Regions from separate parts of the Homo sapiens genome. Here region 1 is linked to region 2. The links come from fine-mapping of genetic effects on gene expression. Tissue or cell type: whole blood. Region 2 holds a variant in brackets; the other region holds the start of a gene. All regions are shown on one strand. Distances are between the middles of the regions.

Region 1 (8,483 bases), 36 kb after region 2:
GCCCCCCGGACGTGGACGGGGGCGGCGGCGGGGCCCCGGACTCCGTCGGCGCACATCCCCGTCCCAGCGCAGAGGTGAGCGGGAGGCCCGGTGCCTCGGGACTCGGTGTGCGCAGGGGCGGTGGGTGGGGTGCGGAGACACCGGCCCCGACGGAGGCCAGGTCAGGGCCCCAGGTTTGTAATTACCAGCCACCCCCAAGCTCTTCAGCCCTGGAGGAGCTGAGCAGAAATGATCGATGACTGGGAGTCCCTACACCTCCCTCCACCGCAGTTCCTCGGGGCTAGAGCTCAGAACCCGGAGCGGGTGGCTGTGCGTCTCTGTGCAGAAGAGGCTGCGCGGTCGGCATGGGGCGACTGTCCAGGAATCCCTGGGGCTCCTGACCGCCACCTCCCAACCCCTGCCAGGCCGGACACCTCGGTCTGGCTGCCAGGGCAGGGGCGGGCCCTGGCCTGGCTCGCTGGGGCCTGGGGAGCTGCCCGTGCTTCCAGCCCAGTCTCCCCCTGGCTGCTGCCGGCTGCTGGCCACTCCCACCTCCCAGGCCTGGCGTGAGGCCCACAGCTGCTGTTGCACAACCCTGGTTAATGTGTGATGGGGGGAGGCCTGGGCCTGGCCCGCCCCTCTGCCAGGGCTTCAGACCCCTGCCCAGCCCCAGTATCTGAAGGAACCACAGTGGAGCCAAGCCCGCGATGTGGAGAACTCAGGCTTCAGGAGACCCTGGCCCTGCTCCTGGCGGCTCCGGGTGGCTTTCAGCTCTCTCTGCAACCTGAGCTGGGGGAGGAGCCAGGCCTCATGCCCAGGGCTGGGAGTGGGGAGCCTGGTGTGCACGCGTGCCCAGGCCTGCACGTGGACCGACCAGGGGAGGGGCCCAGAGCTCTGGCTGGGTCACCCGCACCCCGCCCCCATCTCCTCCAGAGCCACCCCAGGAAAAGCCCGGCTGGACGAGGTCATGGCTGCCGCTGCCCTTACAAGCCTGTCCACCAGCCCTCTCCTTCTGGGGGCCCCGGTTGCAGCCTTCAGCCCAGGTAAGACTCAGATGTCTGCATTTAGGGGTGTGGGTGGGGACAGGGCTCAGAACCTACAGCCACCCAGCCTCTGTGGGGCAAGCAGAGCCCTCAAACCTGGGACTCCTTTCTAAAATGGACTCCCGCACCCTCAGTGCCCCCTACTGAGGCCAAAGCGGCAGGACCCAGGCCTTCTGGCCTCCCTGACCTGCTCACCTCCACGCGGCTGGCCACACACGTCTGCCAACCCTTTCCTGTGCCGGGGGGGTTTCTCCCCAAGCCCTGGGGCCAGCTCCTCCAAGACGCTCTGCCCACCAGTCTCACCGGACTTGGTGAACAGGGGCAGCTCAGGATTAGGGACTCCCTGGACCCACCCGAAGTTCTAAGGCGGGGGGCCCGTGTCCCCACAGAGCCTGGCCTGGAGCCCTGGAAGGAGGCCCTGGTGCGGCCCCCAGGCAGCTACAGCAGCAGCAGCAACAGTGGAGACTGGGGATGGGACCTGGCCAGTGACCAGTCCTCTCCGTCCACCCCGTCACCCCCACTGCCCCCCGAGGCAGCCCACTTTCTGTTTGGGGAGCCCACCCTGAGAAAAAGGAAGGTGAGCTTGGGGGCGGCCCCCAGGGAGGGGCGGGTGTGGCGGCTGAGCCTGACCCTGGCCCCTGTTGCTGCAGAGCCCGGCCCAGGTCATGTTCCAGTGTCTGTGGAAGAGCTGCGGGAAGGTGCTGAGCACGGCGTCGGCGATGCAGAGACACATCCGCCTGGTGCACCTGGGGTGCGGCGGGGCCTGGGGTGCGGCGGGGCCTGCGGGTTGGCTGGGGTTGTGAGGCCCGGCCAGGCCACCCCTTCAGCTCCCACTGGCTGGCTGTGTCTCCCGCAGGAGGCAGGCAGAGCCTGAGCAGAGTGATGGTGAGGAGGACTTCTACTACACAGAGCTGGATGTTGGTGTGGACACGCTGACCGACGGGCTGTCCAGCCTGACTCCAGTGTCCCCCACGGCCTCCATGCCGCCTGCCTTCCCCCGCCTGGAGCTGCCAGAGCTGCTGGAGCCCCCAGCCCTGCCTAGTCCCCTGCGGCCGCCTGCCCCGCCCCTGCCCCCGCCCCCTGTCCTGAGCACCGTTGCTAACCCCCAGTCCTGTCACAGTGACCGTGTCTACCAGGTGGGTGAGGCCACGGGTGGCAGCTGGGGCGGGTCTCAGGGCTCTCTGGAGGGGAGTGAAGCCCTGGCTGTGTCTCCCTGTAGGGCTGCCTGACGCCCGCCCGCCTGGAGCCGCAGCCCACGGAGGTCGGAGCCTGCCCACCCGCCTTGTCCTCCAGGATCGGAGTCACCCTGAGGTGCGTGTGGGCTGAGGGCCTGCGGCTGGCACCAGGTGGGGAGGGTCCTGGTCTCACAGCACCCCATGTCCTGTGACCCCCCGCACAGGAAGCCCCGCGGCGACGCGAAGAAGTGCCGGAAGGTGTATGGCATGGAGCGCCGGGACCTCTGGTGCACAGCCTGCCGCTGGAAGAAAGCCTGCCAGCGGTTCCTGGACTAAGTCCGGCTCGTTCAAGAACATAAGCTACCACCTTCTCCCTCCCCACCCCCTCCAGGCCCGGGGCTGAAACAGCCCGAGGACAGCCCCAGGGGCTGGCTTTCACCAGCTGCAGGGTCTGCTTTTACTTGGGGTGGGGGGGCGGGGCTGACCCTGAACCCTCCCCCCCGCCAGGTCGGGGAGGGGTCCCACCACTCAAAGTGCCTCTAAAGAAACCAGCTTTTTGCACTAAAGCCAAACCACACCGCTGTCCCCTTAGCCCCAAGGGCCCTGGGGGCAGCCACCCTCCCGCCTGTCGGCCCGTAGATTTATCAAGGGTGTTATGGGCCCAGCTTTGGGGGGCCAGTCCCGATGCACTTTGAGGGGTGTTGGAGAGGGGACTCCCCCACTCGCACTTAACTCAACGGCTCTCGGGCCCTGGGGCTGTTTTTACCATGTTTGTTTTTGAAGCTCAGGTGTCTCACGTCTGGGCTGCACCAGGCGAAGAGAGAAATTAAAGATTTGAGGTTTTTCCAGAAGCTTTGTCTGCCTCTCGGGAGGAAGGCCGTGGGGCTGGGACCCTGTGGTGGGCAAGTGGGTGGAGTCTGGCAGCTGCCCACAGAGGGCCGAGGGTCACCCGTCGGCCGCCGCCACCCCAGGCGAGGCCGGAGGAAGGATCATCTGAGACGCAGGAGGCATCTGCTGGAGCAGCAATTTCCCAATTTATTGAAAGTGATCGCTTTGCAAGGATGTCTAAGCTAATCCCGTCACAGAAAGGAAACGCACAGGCGCCTAGGCAGAAACTTGGAGACTCACCGCAGAGGCCACGTGAACCCACGGCCACAGAGAGGCAGGACGGCAGAGCCATGATTTCCCACCGAGCGATTACGAGAACCTCTTCCCCCAATAGTAGACACATCTCCAATACAAACACAGGTTTATAATAAGTAATAGGAAGTCAATATAATATAGATTATCCCCAGAAAAAAATCAACAATCTTCAAACACTGCCCTTTTTTTGTGTGTTTTGTTTTTGTTGACAGGTTGAAAGCATGTTGAAAAAAATAAATATTTAAGAAAAGCACACACAGCACCCTCACTACAAGTAGTTCTAAAAGGGCTGCATACAAAACACAATATAAGATCTAAAAAAAACCACCACCATTAAGTATGGCTTTCTTAAGAGTCGCACATGTCACAGAATGAGCTAAAATAAGATTACTTCTTTTATAATATTGCAAAAAGTTCCAGTTTTTGCATTTTCTCAGTTTTTTAAAGAGGAAGATGTGCAAAGTTGGAAGCAGTAAGCTGCGTCTTCTGAGTCAGTTCCCTACGTAGCCCTGGCAGTGTCCTGTGTCCCAAAGCTCAGAGAGCCCCAGTGTACAACCTGGTCAGGATCCAGAGCTTGACAGAAAAATCGTGGTGTCCCTGCCCCCTCCCCGCCCCCAAATAACACCATCCCCAATGGACTGTATTTCCCACTTTGGTGTTGTAAACACCAAAATACAAACAGACACAAACAAAAATACAAAATGTGAAATGTAATCTACACATTTTTCCTCTTCATAAAAAAATATTTATTAGTTTGAACATCGATTTAAAAAAAAATCAGTCACATAAAAAAAACCCTTCATGACATGTCTTTTCCCTCCACGCCTCCTGAGATGGACGTGCTCACCTGGGCCTCGGAAATCCCACACTCTTCAGTCGGCAAACTGCGAACAAGAACAGGAAATCTGCCACGCAGCAAACACTTGGGGAGGTCAGTGGGACACTGTTGGTTTTAGGGAAGAAAATGCCCCTGTAGCTCCGGCGGGGAACCCCAAAACGGTCAGCAAAGGCAGGCCACACGGAGTGAGCCGGCCAGATGGAGCAGGACATCCTGAGTGTGGAGGGGGAGGCGGGCCTGGGTCCTGGGCAGGGTGGCCTGAGAGCAGGGACTGGTACAAAACCCAGAGACATTGGTGGGTAGCAAAGGTCTGGTTTCCAAATGCATTTTGTAAGAAAGTCAGTCTGTTTAGAAAAAGGGTTTAAAAATCAGGGGAAAGGTACAAAGTTCTGAGAATTCTCAAAGAGGCCGGGGTGGGGCTGGCCTGGGGTGAGGGCTGGAGGGCTCCGCTGCAGCTCCCTGGTAGCCATGCTCTCCCCCTGGGGGACTCGTGCCAGAGCCACCCACCTTGCTCGGTAAGAGTGGGCAGGGCTCACCGCTGAGGGGCCAGCGCTTGGCCCGGCTCCTATCCCCACACTCCGTGTGCAGAAAAATCTTGGCCTCTTTCTCCAGCTTTGAGGAGCCCACAGCCTCCGAGCTGAGGGGTGTGTGTGATGACAGCTCCAGCCAGGGCACCCTGTCATTGGTAGAACCGGGGGCCAATGTCAAAAAACAAAAGCCGTGACTCCTGCGCTGTACCTGGAGTCCTCCATGTACTCCTCCACAGGACCCCCGGCCAGCCCCAGCCCTCCCCGAGCAGCAGCGGTCAGGGAAGCTGGTGCTCTACCTGACAATGTGGGGAAAAGCCTGGTATACAGGCTAGAAAAAGAGAGTAAAAACTCTTTCCACGCAGCCCTGAAGCTCAGCACTCCGGGGGGTCTTCACACGGGCAGGTCCTGGAGGGAAGGAGGAGGCCACCGCGCCCACCTCCCATCTGAAGGCACAGCACCGCAGTGGTGGCCTGTGCCAGAGGAGGGGGTGAAGGATGGAATGTCCTCATGGTGAGTGCTGTCAGAGGCAGGCCTGAACGAGAAGACAGGCCGTGGCAACGGTCCCGAGGCTGTGAGTCTAGGCAGCCTGCCTCCGGGACCCCCAAAGCCAGGCGGTGCACCACAGCACACACCGTGGGACCTTTGCTTTTCACTCAGGAAAAGAAAGAACATGTGAGTGCTTCTGAAAACACAGCAAGAGGACTTGAGCACAAGCTAAAGGAAAAACAACCCTATATAGTTTCTTCGAGTGAGAAAAATAATGCCAAACAAAATAATTTTATGTAACTACCTCGATATGTCTCTGACTACTTAAAAATTTGGTTACCCACGCGGGGAGGTGTAAGCAGCACACTGCAGTTAGGAACACCGCCTCCAGTGTTAGCAGCAAAGGCAGGAGCCCAGCTCCAGCCCGTCCAGGAGGGGTCAGCAGGAGCGGCCGGGCTGGGCCATGGGCAGAACAGGACGGGCAGAGCCCGGGGTGGACGTGGCAGCCCAAGGCTCTCCGAGGAAGTGCACACGACTGAGCCGAGGCCCTTGCAGAGGGAACCTGGTGTGGCCTGAAGTGGTGGGGGGCACAGGGCTGAGGGTCCCCTCCTGGAAGGAGCCCCCAGGGCTGTGTCCACCTAAGATAGCACCTGGAGCCCTCGGCCTCCAGCAGGGTCTGCAGCTGTGTTGTGTGTTAAGCACCAAAGCCCAGAGGTAAGACGGTGGCAGGGCTCTCTGTGCACCTGGATTCTACAGGCTGCCATGGGCCACGGCTGCACCACGGGCCACGGCTGCAGCCACAGGCAGTGACCTGGCTGCTAGGGGAGGGGAGGGCGGGCTCCAGCCGGGCTGACCGGGTGTCTGTAAAACTCTGCACCTGCTCAGGCCAGGGGCCTCTGGGCCGAACACACCACCCCGCCCAGTGCCCACTGGACCCGGCCACAGGCCCATCACGTGTCCAAGCCAGGCTGGCCATCACAGGGGCCACTCACACACCCGCACCACCTGCTGGGGACTTAGGACCGTGCTCTCCCTTCACTCAAACCCACCCTGTGCCCTCCCCCAACTCACTTCATGTCTGGTCCCAGAGCACCCCTCTTGCTGGGGTCGCACCTGCTTAGCCCGCAGGGCTGGTTTCCGTGGGGGGTGGGTTCAGGGGGAAGCAGAGGAGGGGCCGCGAGAGGGGTGAGCGTGGCCCTGGCCCCGCAGTGGAGACCCACCGGACACACACACGGGTGGACGGAGCGAGGCAGCCACCGACCCTGCCGGCGGGCGGGCCTAGGAGAGCCAGGCGAAGTCCTTGTCAGGGCCTCCTGGGGGGCTGCGCGGCCGCGGCGAGTCTTCCTCATCCTTGTCGTCCGCCAACAGCGCATCCTCAGGGGCCAGGCCCTCGTCGTCCTCGCCCAGCTCCTCCGCCTCCCCTCGTGGGTCCTCAGGGTCCTCCAGATAGGGCCCGTCGCCTGGGAACAGCGCCTCTGGAGAGCCCTCGCCGCCTCCGCCGCCATGGTCCAGGGGCCCGGCCATGCCGCGGCCAGCACAGTCGGTGCACACACCGTGGCGCCTGGAGCCATGCCTGATGCCCACGCTGGCGGCGGACATGAAGACGCGGCTGCACACCTTGCACACATACTTCTTGTCCTTGCTGTGGACCTGCAGAGGCAGGGCAGGGGGTGAGCAGGGCCTGGTGGGTTGGGGGGCGGGGCAGGGGGTGAGCAGGGCCTGGTGGAGGTGGGGGGGGCAGGTGGTGAGCAGGGCCAGGTGGAGGTTGGAAGAGGGGGCAGGGGGTGAGCAGGGCCTGGTGGAGGTGGGGGGGGCGGGGCAGGGGGTGAGCAGGGCCCGGTGGAGGTTGGGAGGGGGGCCAGGGGGTGAGCAGGGCCTGGTGGGTGGGGGGGGTGCGGGGGTGAGCAGGGCCCGGTTGGGGTTGGGGGGGCACAGCCTCCCGGGCCCTCCGAGTGTCTGCACAGGCAGAGACTCCTGGTGGGGGAGGTGCGCAGACAGGAGTGCTCAGACCTTGAGCCCCAGCTCCTATCAGAGCCACACAGCAGAACTGCAGGTGGCACCAAGGCAGCCCTGTCCCAAGGGGATGCTGGCACGAGGGCGGCAGTGCCCCTCCCCCGCAAACCCAGCCCCTAGGTGGGCCAGTCTCAGCGTCTACACTGTGTGTCCAAGCACCCCCACCAGAGGCCCCCTGGGTTGACACACTTCTCACGGGGGTCACACCACCGGCCTCTGCCTAAAAGCCTGGCTTCCTCCAAACCTCCCTGCAGGACAGGCTGAGGGCCCCGCATTGGACTGGAGCTCACAGAGCTCTTCCTGTACCCAGCCGTACAGGGACGGGCCGGGGTTGGGGCTGCCAGCCGGGCAGGTGGGCCCACACCTCAGCCTGGCTGCGTGGACACCCCCTCAGCCCCTGACCCCCTCAGTCCCTGACCCCTCAGCCCGACCCTGACTCCAGGAACGTGTAAAGGAGGCAACTCCCCCACTCTCAGGCTGTTTCAAGGTCGACTGAGACATGCAAGAAGAGAGATGAGCACTTATGGTCAGAGGAGGAGGTGTGGCTGCCAGGGAGGGCAGTCGTGCTGTGCCCTGTGCTGGGCCCGGCAGGGAGATGGGGCAGCACCCTGAAGAGGGCCCATGTGGCAGGACGCGAGGTGCTGGGTTCCTGGAGGGTCTCAGCACTGGCCTCAAGGCCTGAGGGAACTACCACACACTGCTGGGGACATGTGGCCCCAGGTGGGCTTCCGCTGAGGGTGGGTGTGGACACCTGTGCTGTGCAGAACCAGACCTCAGACATGGCCAGGGATGGGGAGAGGTGGCCCTTGTACCCACTCACGGGCACCCTCGGCCACGCCAGCTAGAGGAGGCCTTGGGGGGCTGGCCCTGATCCCTCACAGCACAGCCCCTGTCTCTGCCCTCCAAGGACCGAGAGGGCAGGACCCACAGAGGACCCCAATAGCAACCCCTGGCCCCTGGCCAAGTCCACACGAGGGGCTTCTCTGAGGTGGGCTGGCCTCAGGTCAGTCCTCCAGGCTGAACCCGGCAATGACCCCAGGCTCCCCTCGGCTCCTCCCTCCATCCACAGGGCTGTCTCCCGGGGCCTGCAGCACCTCTGAGGCTGCACGGAGAACTGAGGCTGGGATGTGCTTGTGAGTTTAGCTCTTCCTTAAACCATTCCAAACTCACCAGTTTTCTCCCATGAGCAAGTACATACATAATCAATGTGTGTCATGGCGGAAGACGGTCCTGCTACACTTGCAAAGACCTCTGACGGGCAGGCACCACAGCTACC
Region 2 (10,514 bases):
AAACTCCGCGTCCACGTGGAGCAGACAACAGCTCACATTTGCCACTTTGCCTCCAGGCTGTGCCAGCTCTCCTGTCCAGGCATGAGTGCCCAGAGACCTAGAACTGGATGCTGACCAGGTAGGACAAGCTGGTGGTCAGTGTGTTAAGACACACACACCCGAGAGCATGAGAAGCCAGGAGGCACAGCCCAACTCTCCGAAATCCTTAGGGTGTCTGAGCAGGGAGTACCAGACAACCCCATCCCAGTGCCAGACAAGCTTGTGCACCTGCACTTCCCACAGAGGAGAGAAGCCTGTGCACCTGCACTTCCCACAGTGGAAAGGAGGAGGCCCAAGGCCAGGCCCCCCCACCCCCAGGAACTTCCCACAGTGGAGAGGAGGCCCAAGGCCAGGCGCCCTCCAGGGTTCTGCAGGTAGCGAGGCCCCCCCACCCCCAGGAACTTCTCTGGCCTACAGACAGGTCCCACACAGAGGCCGCCAACCCCTCAAGGGACCCTGCAGTGTGCCGGCTGTCTGCTGCTGACACAAGGGAGCAGGCGGACCCTAAGGTGGAGACCTCTGTGGCAGGAGGGGCGGCTCTGTGGAGGCTGCAGCAAGCCCAGTGAGAGAATCTCCACGTGGCTCCTGGGGCTTCTGAGCAGGGTGGCAGAAGGTTCATGTGCAACCGGGTCCTGGACCATGGGACCACGTGGCCAGAGCCACCCATCACACCTACCAGGCACAAGGTGCACAGCCCAGCAGGGCCGCAGTGGACGGGAGCGACACCTCAGGGCTGAGTGCGGGCAGGACCCAGAGCCCCACGCCCCAGTGGAGGCGTCACAGCAGTGGTCATTGTGGGGTGCCCCACAAGGAGGGGGAAGAGGGAGGTGTCCAAGCGTGGCTCCTGGCTGGCCAGCTGACCCCAGTGGAGCAGTCAGAGGGACTGTGGGTCTGAGTTTTTCTCCCCAGCAGCAATGGGAGCTCCCCAACTGCAAAGTGCCAGCCAGCCTGAGAGACTAGTGTTACAGCAAAGAACCCAGGAGCTGAGGTCCTGGCACATGCCACACATGTGGACACCAACCCAGGGTCCAGCCCCAGGACGAGGCCAATTCGCAATGACGCCCCTTTCTGTGGTGCTGGCTCTGCACAAGGATGCAGGATACAGGAAACCAGGGTGGGAGCAGGGGCCTCCCTTCCGGTCCCTCCCAGTGACCTAGGGGGGTCCCTGCAGCTGATCCTCCCAGCTCTGAGCTCAGCAGGGTCAGGGGTCCCGGCCACTAGAGCAGCACATACTCAGCAGACACGCTGAATGACGAGCCACAGCTGCCTCATGGGCATGACTTGCACCTCATGTCTAGGAGACCCTGGTGGGCAGGAGATGGGGCTGCCATCCCACAGCTGTCCCACAGCTGGGGACCCAGGGAGCCACTGGCCCCACCACGGTGGTGTCTGGAGAAGGGCTCAGACTGCCAGGAAGTCGCACCCCAGCAGAAGTGGTAGTGAATTGGGAGGGCACTCAAGGAAGGGCTGTGCAGCCCCAAGACCAGCAGCAAGGATGGGCTACAGTGGCCCCCTTAAGTCTCCCTCTTCCAGTTTCGCCTTAAGAGAGGCCCTCAGGACCTTGGAGGAACCCCTCTCCAACGTGGAAGTGTGGGTCCACATAGGGCTGCAGCTGTGGCCAGTGCAGGCATCTCTGGCCCCACTGTATTCTTGCTTCATGTTGGAGAACACTGCACCAGCAGATGGTCTCATTTTGGTTTCTGTGGGACCCACTTTGGCTGCAAAGAGCCACACTGCCAGGTCACACCTGCCCAGGGCAGCCCACACTGGGGACCCACCAGGCCATGGTGTGAAGTCCCGGCCAGCCTGGCCCCACATGGCACAGCATAGCCAGTTCTCCTCCAGGGCTCCCTGCTGGGCCAACCACAGCTCTGTGGATCCTGCTGCCTGAGTCGACCTCTCCTCTCCCGTCCTCCCTGCCTTCCTGGTGCCGACCCCCAGTGTGCATCCTGTACCTCGACCTGTCTCAGCATCTGTGCCTGAGACACCGGCCTGTGACAAGATCATCATCATCTGTGTCACTCCCCAAGCATGCTGCGCACTGGACACACAGGCCCTGACTCAACTTGTCCTGTCTGACTTCAGTGGTCCTACAGGATCTATCAGAGATCACTTGGCCATGGGAGAAATGTCTTCTTGGCTAGAAGTCACAGCAGGAGGGGACACTTTGGGGGCGCCTAGGAAAGGGGAACTAGGATCAAAAAAGAGATCAGGACCTGGGCACTCAGCTCTAGAGATGGCATCAGGGCAGCCAAGGCACTGGGGACACCCCACACCCACTGTGCCAGCCTAGGGCAGGGAGCCCGAGGAAGCCACAGGCTCTGCCCTGCTCAGTGCTGGACTCAGTGCCTGGCCCAGGCTGAGAAGGAGATAAACTGCAGCCTTGGGGGTGTGGGGAAGGGGCACCACACTGGGATCTCAGAAATGCCCAAAACCTGTGTCAAAATAGGAGACTGCCGCTGTGAGACCCTGAGGAGTCTTCTGGTGATCATGGAAGAACAAATGTTAAGCTAGAACTGAAGGAACCTCATCAGGGGAGAGGCAGCCATCCTGCCGTCCCCACATCTGGTCTTTGCCATTTCTGTGTCCTGTGGTGGTCAGCAGCAAGGTCTCTGAGCCGAAAGGAGGCACTCACTTTGGAGGAGTGCAGGGTCCCCAGGTCCCCACACTTTGTCTTGTCCTGACTGAGAAAGAAACAGACTGCCCTGACCTCTCTGACTTGGCCAGCGAGGTTGCCCTTAGGCTCAAACCCAAGCCAGGGTTTGAACATTCCCAGACACTTGTAAGATGTTTAGGTTGTTAACATAATGTTCAGGTTTCAAAACATTGAAAGAAACTAGCCCCAGCCCTGAACCCAGATCCCCCCCGGCTTCAGGCATGACCAGTGAACACGCCCTTCTCTCACTGGTCACCTGAGGATGCCGCACTCTGTCAACAGGTTCCCCTAATACATGCTCTGATCTGATCGCCTTGGCATTTAGTGATTCTTTCCCTGGAATTCTCCACTGGCCCCATCGCAGGGAACTCCCAAGTGGGAAACTCCCCTACCACCACTTTTGGGGCAACTTCAGCTAAGGGTTCAGCTGGGACAAAACAGGGAGCCACTCGGGAACCTGGGACAGGACCAGAGAGAAAACCCGAGGGACAGAGTGGGTAAGGAAAACTGCTGAGGAAGGGCCCAAAGGGCACTCTGGAAAGAAGTGGCACTGGAGGGCTGGGGTGGGGGTGGTCCTGGCCAGGGAGTCTTACCTTGTCCCACAAAGACTGCAGCTCTTCCTGCCCTCCTAAGTCCCAGAACATGAGCCGAGCCTTTCCCACATCCACAGTGCCGACTGGGGAGAGGAGGAAACAGGCAAGGCTCATGACCTTGGTCCTCGACACACCCAGTCCCAGCTCTCCCAGGGGATGGGGCAAACCATGCTGGTGCCACTCAAATGAGACTTGAGAGGGGCCCGACAGGGCTGTGGCCACGGGCCAGCTGGACTGTGAATATCACGGCATCCTCAAGGCCCCAAACCCACAGCCTGCTATTGAGACCCTTACTGTTTAGGCCCACGGTGGTGGTGATTTTGGATAGACTCATCCCCTTGTAGTTCTTGTTAAATCGGGTTTTCGACTGCTCCAGGAAGGTCTGAGGAGAGAGGCAGAGGCGAAACACATCAAGGAGGGGCTATACTGGCTTCCAAATATCCTTACTCAGGTCTGTTCTTTAAAAGACAGAAACAGAAACAGAGCAACACTCTGCTCTTCAGGAGGCTGGTGGTGACTATCCTGCCGTCTCAGGTGAAATTTGGCTTCCGTCTGGGTAGTGAACGTGCAGCTGACAGCACAAAACCGAAGGGGGCGCCGCCAGGCCGTGGGAAAGGTGCGCGCAAGGGCGTGGGCACTCACCGTCTTCCCAGCATTGTCCAGGCCCAGGATCAGGATGCAGTACTCGTCCTTCTGAAACATGTACTTGTACAAGCCCGACAGCAGCGTGTACATCCTGCCCTGGGCACCCCAACATAGGTCAGTGTGCAGCCAGAAAGCACCTCCCCTCCCCCGGGCTTCTCCACGGTGGTCAGTGGCGCCCCACGTCCAGCCGACCGCTCAGGACGAGAGCCTGGGGGCCATTCCCGACTCCTCGTCCCTCTCCCACCCCGTCCCTCTGTAACTTCTCCCAGGTCAGCCGCCACTGTGTCCTGCTCACAGCAATGACTGCGACCTCTCCGCATACACATCGGTTCCGGCCCCTCCCCTGCTCGCGGGACTACCCAGCCGGGTGTTCACAGTGAGCTCAGCCGCGCTCCCGCCCTCCCCCGAGGCTTCGCTCCCACGCTTCACGCGCGCGGAACGGGGAACACACTCGCTGCAGCCCCGCCTGGGCCACGGCACCCTCGAGCGCCAGCCCCGCGCCCCACCCGGGAGCAGCGAGCCACCGGCGCGCTCCCCAGGAGCCCCTGCAGGCGCCGGGTAGGGACGCCCCATCACCCCATTTCTTAAAACGGGGACGGCCCTGGGGGGAGCGGACTACAGGGCGGGTGAGCAGCGGCGCGGCTGCTCCTGGAGTGCACCTGGAGGCGGCGCGCGGCTGGCAGGGAACGACTGCGAAGGAAGAACCTGGGTCGCGGCCCCCGGCTACGTCCGCCCCAAGCCGCCGCCGCCAGGTCTGAGGCTCCCCGACAAGCAGCCAAAGCTGGCTCCTGTCACACCCGCGTCCCACCTCGAGTCCTGGGCCGCCCCTCGGGCCTCGCGCCTCACCGCACAGCCTGCGGCCTACCTGCGTCCGCCGCGCCCTCGGAGCCGCTGCTGCTGACCCCCGCTGACCTCCGCTGACCCCGCGCTAACCCCGCGCGGCGCCTGACGGGACGCGGGCCGGCCTCAGGGAATGAGCTGAACCGCGTCCCAGCGGCCTCCGCGCTCCGCTTCCCGGCTGCCCCCGCGCGCCAAGCACTTCCGGAAGCGGCGGCGCTCGGGAGGAAGTGCCGATCGGCTGCTGGGGCGAAAAGGGGGCGCCGGGCCGCTCTAGCCGGTGAGGCCGGCGGGCTCTCTGTGGCTGCGGCTGGGAAACCGCGCGGAGGAGGTGCCCGGCCGGGGACCAGGTGGCCGCGGTTTGCGGGGACGCGGCCCTGGCCAGACAGAAGAGACGCCGGGCGGGGGGGCGCGGCCGGCCTGGAAGGCGGCGGGCGCGGCGGGTGGGCTCGGCGGAGGGTGAGGCGGCGGGGCGCCCCGCGGGGAAGGGGCTCCGGAGTGACGCGGGACCCGGCTAGCGGCGAGCCCACGGCGGCTCGGAAGGGAAGCGCGGAGCCTGAGCGGGGGTACCCGGGCTGCGACCTCTGCGCTGGGAGCTGTGCCTCTGAGCCGGTGTCTCCCCGAGGGAAAGGGG[ACGTGCC/A]CGTGCCCGTGCCCGCCCTCAGGCTGTGGGGTCGGTCCCGAGACGCGGGGCTCAGCTGGCTTCTCTTCTTGCAGCCCTGGTCCAGCGCCTCCCTCTCTCAGCATGGACGAGGAGAGCCTGGAGTCGGCCTTGCAGACCTACCGTGCGCAGCTGCAGCAGGTGGAGCTGGCCTTGGGCGCCGGCCTGGATTCGTCTGAGCAGGCTGACCTGCGCCAGCTGCAGGGGGACCTGAAGGAGCTCATCGAGCTCACCGAGGCCAGCCTGGTGTCTGTCAGGAAGAGCAGCTTGTTGGCCGCGCTGGACGAAGAGCGCCCGGGCCGCCAGGAAGATGCTGAGTACCAGGCTTTCCGGGAGGCCATCACTGAGGCGGTGGAGGCACCAGCAGCGGCCCGTGGGTCCGGATCAGAGACCGTTCCTAAAGCAGAGGCGGGGCCAGAATCTGCGGCAGGTGGGCAGGAGGAGGAAGAGGGAGAGGACGAGGAAGAGCTGAGTGGGACAAAGGTGAGCGCGCCCTACTACAGCTCCTGGGGCACTCTGGAGTATCACAACGCCATGGTGGTGGGAACGGAAGAGGCGGAGGATGGCTCGGCGGGTGTCCGTGTGCTTTACCTGTACCCCACTCACAAGTCTCTGAAGCCGTGCCCGTTCTTCCTGGAGGGAAAGTGCCGCTTTAAGGAGAACTGCAGGTAAAGCCCTTTGTTGTCAGATGCCAACCTTAGGGGCGTAAGGGGCACGCACACAGGGTCGGGTCAGGATCGGCCCTCCCTTTGCTTTGCAGTTTTGTCTCAGCTTCCTGGGGCAGGCGTGCTTTGACAGCTGTGTCTGTGTTCAGGCGTCTACGTCTTCCTTCTGGGGTGAATCAAGAAGCATGGAAGGAGGCCAGGCGCGGTGGCTCACGCCTGTAATCCCAGCACTTTAGGAAGCCGAGGCGGGCAGATCACCTGAGGTCAGGAGTTCAAGACCACGCTGGTCAACATGGTGAAACCCCATCTCCTTAAAAACACAAAAATGAACCGGTCGTGGTGGCGCGCACCTGTGGTCCTGGCTACTCAGGAGGCTGAGGCAGGAGAATTGGTTGAACCCAGGAGGCCGAGTTTGCAGTGAGTGGAGATGCAGCCACTGTACTGCAGCCCGAGCAGCAGTGCAAGGCTTATGTGGAAGAGAGTAGGTCTCCAGCCTATCGTCAGTTTTTTTTTGGTGGTTGTTTTAATTTTTTTTGAGACAGGGTCTTACTTTGTCAACCAGGCTGGAGTGCAGTGGCATAGTCCTGGCTCACTGCAGCCTGGACCTCCTGGGCTCAACCGATCCTCCTGCCTCAGCCCCCCTAGGAGCTGGGCTACAGACTCACGCTACTACACCCAGCTAATTTTTATATTACTATAATTTTTTATCTTTTTTTTGAGATGGAGTCTTGTTCTGTTGCCCAGGCTGGAGTGCAGTGGCGTGATCTCGGCTCACTGCAAGCTCCGCCTCCCGGGTTCACGCCATTCTCCTGCCTCAGCCTCCCGAGTAGCTGGGACTACAGGCGCCCGCCACCATGTCTGGCTAATTTTCTGTATTTTTAGTAGAGACGGGGTTTCACCATGTTAGCCAGGATGGTCTCAATCTCCTGACCTCGTGATCCGCCCACCTTGGCCTCCCAAAGTGCTGGGATGACAAGCGTGAGCCACCGCGCCTGGCCTTTTTTTTTTGGAGACAGAGTTTCACTCTCCTCACCCAGGCTGGAGTGTAGTGGCGCAATCTCAGCTTACCGCAACCTCTGTCTCCCGGGTTGAAGTAATTCTCTACCTCAGCGTCCAGAGTAGCTGGCATTACAGGCGCCCGCCACCACACTGGGCTAATTTTTTGTATTTTTAGTAGAGTCGGAGATTCACCATCTTGGCCAGGCTGGTCTTGAACTCCTGACCTCGTGATCCACCCACCTTGGCCTCCCAAAGTGCTGGGATCACAGGCGTGAGCCACTGCGCCTGGCCCTGTTGTTAGTTTTATTCTCTAGAGTTCAACTTTTAAATTTTACTTTCATGGAGATTTTCAAACATACCCCAAATTAGAGAGTTTAGCATAATCACCGCCCACGGTCCATCATCCAATGTCGTCATTTATTAATATTTTCCCAGTCTCATTTTGTCTGTTCTCCCTGCCCTATTTTTTTCTTTCCTGGGCCATTTTAAAGCAAATTCCAGAAGTTACTGGTTTTTTCCAATTATGAATACTTCATAGTTGCATCTCTAATCTAACTGATTAGGAAATTACTTAAAAAGTAACTTTTTGGAAGTCCAAGTCCGATGTGAGGACAAAAAAGAGTAACTTCTGTGTCATAATAGGTAACACATTTAATGGTAATACCTCTTCCATATTCAAATATGAACAATTATTACTGTAATGTCTCTATTTCCCTAAGCGCATAGCTTTATTTTTCCTCCTTTTTACTTTTCTCTTAGAAGAAATATTTACCAAGCCTTCTAGTAGGTAATTTTCTTTTTTAGCCAATAGTTCAGGCTGACCGTGTAACCATCCCTAGTTCTAGTTCTAGTTCTTTGAATGTCTTCCTTTTTTTTTTTTTTTTGAAACAGCGTCTTGCTGCTCTGTCACCCAGGCTGGAGTGCAGTGGCACAATCTCGGCTCACTGCAATCTCCGCCTCCCTGGCCCAAGCCATCCTCCCACCTCAGCCTCCCTAATAGCTGATACTACAAGTGTGCACTGCCACGCCCAGCTAATTTTTGTATTTTTTGTAGAGACGGGATTTCACCATATTACCCAGGTCTCGAATTCCTGATCCCTTTGATGAGAGATCTGACACATCCCTGTGGTGCTCCCTCTGGGCCAGGCACTGCTCCAAGGGTTTCATATACTTTCATTCATCTGTGCAACAGCCCTGTAGGTAGGCCCTGCAGTCACACCATCTGACAGAGGAGGAAACAGGAGTAGAAGAACTGAGTGGTCCAGGGCTTCAAGGCTCAGAGGGCTCCGGTTGCCCCCAGCCCTCGTTCCGTCCCCTGCTCCACCCAGTGCTGCTTGCCATGTCGGCATCAGGCCTGATCTGAAAGCTTCCGGAGCATCTTACAGACGTCCACCTTGCCACCATTCAGGACTGATAAGTTCTCTTGGATTTGCGTTGGACCTTTTTTTTTTTTTTAAGATGGAGTTTCACTGTTGTTGCCCAGGCTAGAGTACAATGGCATGACCTCCACCTCCTGGGTTCAAGGGATTCTCCTGCCTCAGCCTCCCAAGTAGCTGGGATTACAGGCGCCTGTCACCACGTGGTGCCCAGCTAATTTTTATATTTTTAGTAGAGGCAGGGTTTCACCATGTTGGCCAGGCTGGTCTCGAACTCTTGACCTCAGGTGATCCCGCCTTGGTTTCCCAAAGTGCTGGGATTACAGGCATGAGCCACCACACCCGGCCCAGGATTTCTTTATATATTCTGGATATCATCCCTTATGAAGTATATAGTTTGCAGATATTTGCTCCCATTGTTTGGGTTGTCTTTTCACTTGATATAGTGTCCTTTGATGCACAAACATTTTAAATTTTGATGCAGTGCAATTTATTGTTTCTTTATTGCCTATGTTTTTGTCATCAGGTTTAAGAAACCACCTCATCCATAGTTATGAGGATTTTCACCTATGTTTTCTTCTAAGAGTTCTGTAGTTTTAGCTGTTAAATTTAGGTCTTTGATCCATTTTGAGTTAATTTTTGTATATGTTATTAGGTGAGGGTCCACTTTATTCTTTTGCATGTGGATTTCCAGTTTTCCCAGCACCATTTGTTTAAAAGACTGCTTTTTCTCCACTGAATGGTCTTGGCACTTTTGTCCAAAATCAATTGGCAATATATGTAAGGGTTTATTTCTGAGCTCTCTCTCCTGTTCCATTGGTGTATATGTGCCAGTACCACACTGTTCTGATTATTATAGCTTTGTGATAAGTTTTAAACTCAGGAAGTGGTAGTTATTCACCATTTGCTCCTCTTTTTCAAGTTTGTTTTGTTTCTGGATCCTTTGCAATTTCATATGAATTTTAGGATCGGCTTGTCCAATTCTGCATAAAAGACAGTTTGAATTTTGATATGGATTGCATAGAATGTGTAGATCTGTTTGGGGCACATTGTCATCTTTACAATATTAAGCCTTCTGGCTGGGTGTGGTGGCTGACGCCTGTAATCCCAGTACTTTGGGAGGCTGAGGCGGGCATATCACTTGAGGTCAGGAGTTCAAGACCAGCCTGGCCAACGTGGTGAAACCCCGTCTCTACTAAAAATAAAAAACAAATTAGTCGGAGGTGGTGCACACCTGTAATCCCAGCTACACGAGAGGGTGAGGCAGGAGAATCGCTTGAACCTGGGAGGAGGAGGTTGCAGTGAGCTGAGATCATGCCACTGCACTCCAGCCTGGGTAACAGAGGGAGACTCCATCTTAAACAACAACAATAACAGAAGAAAAAAACAGTATTAAGTCTTCCAATTCATGAATGAAGGATCTGTCCATTTATTTACGTCTTTAATTTCTTTCAACAGTATTTTGTACTGTTCAAGTCTTGCACATTCTTGGTTAAATAAGTATTATTTTTGATGCTTCTCTAAGGAATTGTTTTTCTTTTCCTTTTTTTTTTGAGACAGAGTCTTGCTCTGTCACCCAGGCTGGAGTGCAATGGCACAATCTTGGCTCACTGCAACCTCTGCCTCCCGGGTTCAAGCAATTCTTCTGCTCAGCCTCCCAAGTAGCTGGGATCACAGGTGCCTGCCACCACACCCAGCTAATTTTTTTTTTTGAGATGGAGTCTTGCTCTGTTGCCCAGGCTGGAGTGAAGTGGCCCAATCTTGGCTCACTGCAAGCTCCACCTCCCGGGTTCACACCATTCTTCTGCCTCAGCCTCCTGAGTCGCTGGGAATACAGGTGCCTGCCACCACGCCCAGCTAATTTTTTGTATTTTTAGTAGAGATGGGGTTTCACCATGTAGCCAGGATGGTCTCGAACTCTTGACCTCAGGTGATCTGCCTGCCTCGGCCTCCCAAAGTGCTGGGATTACAGATGTGAGCCACTGTGCCCGGCTGGAGTTGTTTTCCTTAGTTACATTTTCAGGCTGTTTGTTGCTAGTATATAGA

The links. PIP is the estimated chance that this variant, and not a neighbour inherited with it, causes the effect.
Region 1: it holds the start of ZBTB46-AS2, and the variant in region 2 is fine-mapped to the expression of ZBTB46-AS2 in whole blood (TOPMed, PIP above 0.99).

What each region holds. Positions count from the first base shown.
Region 1 is chr20:63,740,458-63,748,940 of GRCh38, forward strand. ZBTB46-AS2 (ZBTB46 antisense RNA 2) reads left to right here and starts at 3,368. Exons shown (of 3, transcript NR_186425.1): 1 at 3,368-4,271; 2 at 5,071-5,218; 3 at 5,366-5,494. SLC2A4RG (SLC2A4 regulator) reads left to right here. Exons shown (of 8, transcript NM_020062.4): 2 at 1-74; 3 at 913-1,022; 4 at 1,412-1,599; 5 at 1,673-1,773; 6 at 1,879-2,158; 7 at 2,242-2,333; 8 at 2,422-3,593. The coding sequence ends at 2,533. ZBTB46 (zinc finger and BTB domain containing 46) reads right to left here. Exons shown (of 5, transcript NM_001369741.1): 5 at 3,213-6,844. The coding sequence ends at 6,473. RefSeq lists a silencer at 1-436.
Region 2 is chr20:63,703,069-63,713,582 of GRCh38, forward strand. ARFRP1 (ARF related protein 1) reads right to left here and starts at 4,908. Exons shown (of 8, transcript NM_001267547.3): 1 at 4,799-4,908; 2 at 3,931-4,029; 3 at 3,583-3,670; 4 at 3,289-3,371. The coding sequence starts at 4,023. It overlaps ZGPAT (zinc finger CCCH-type and G-patch domain containing), which reads left to right and starts at 4,971. Exons shown (of 7, transcript NM_181485.3): 1 at 4,971-5,050; 2 at 5,485-6,096. The coding sequence starts at 5,513. RefSeq lists enhancers at 3,974-4,033, 4,896-5,856 and silencers at 4,184-4,233, 4,324-4,563, 4,984-5,043, 5,084-5,243. The variant ACGTGCC/A (reference allele first, on the strand shown) is at 5,405.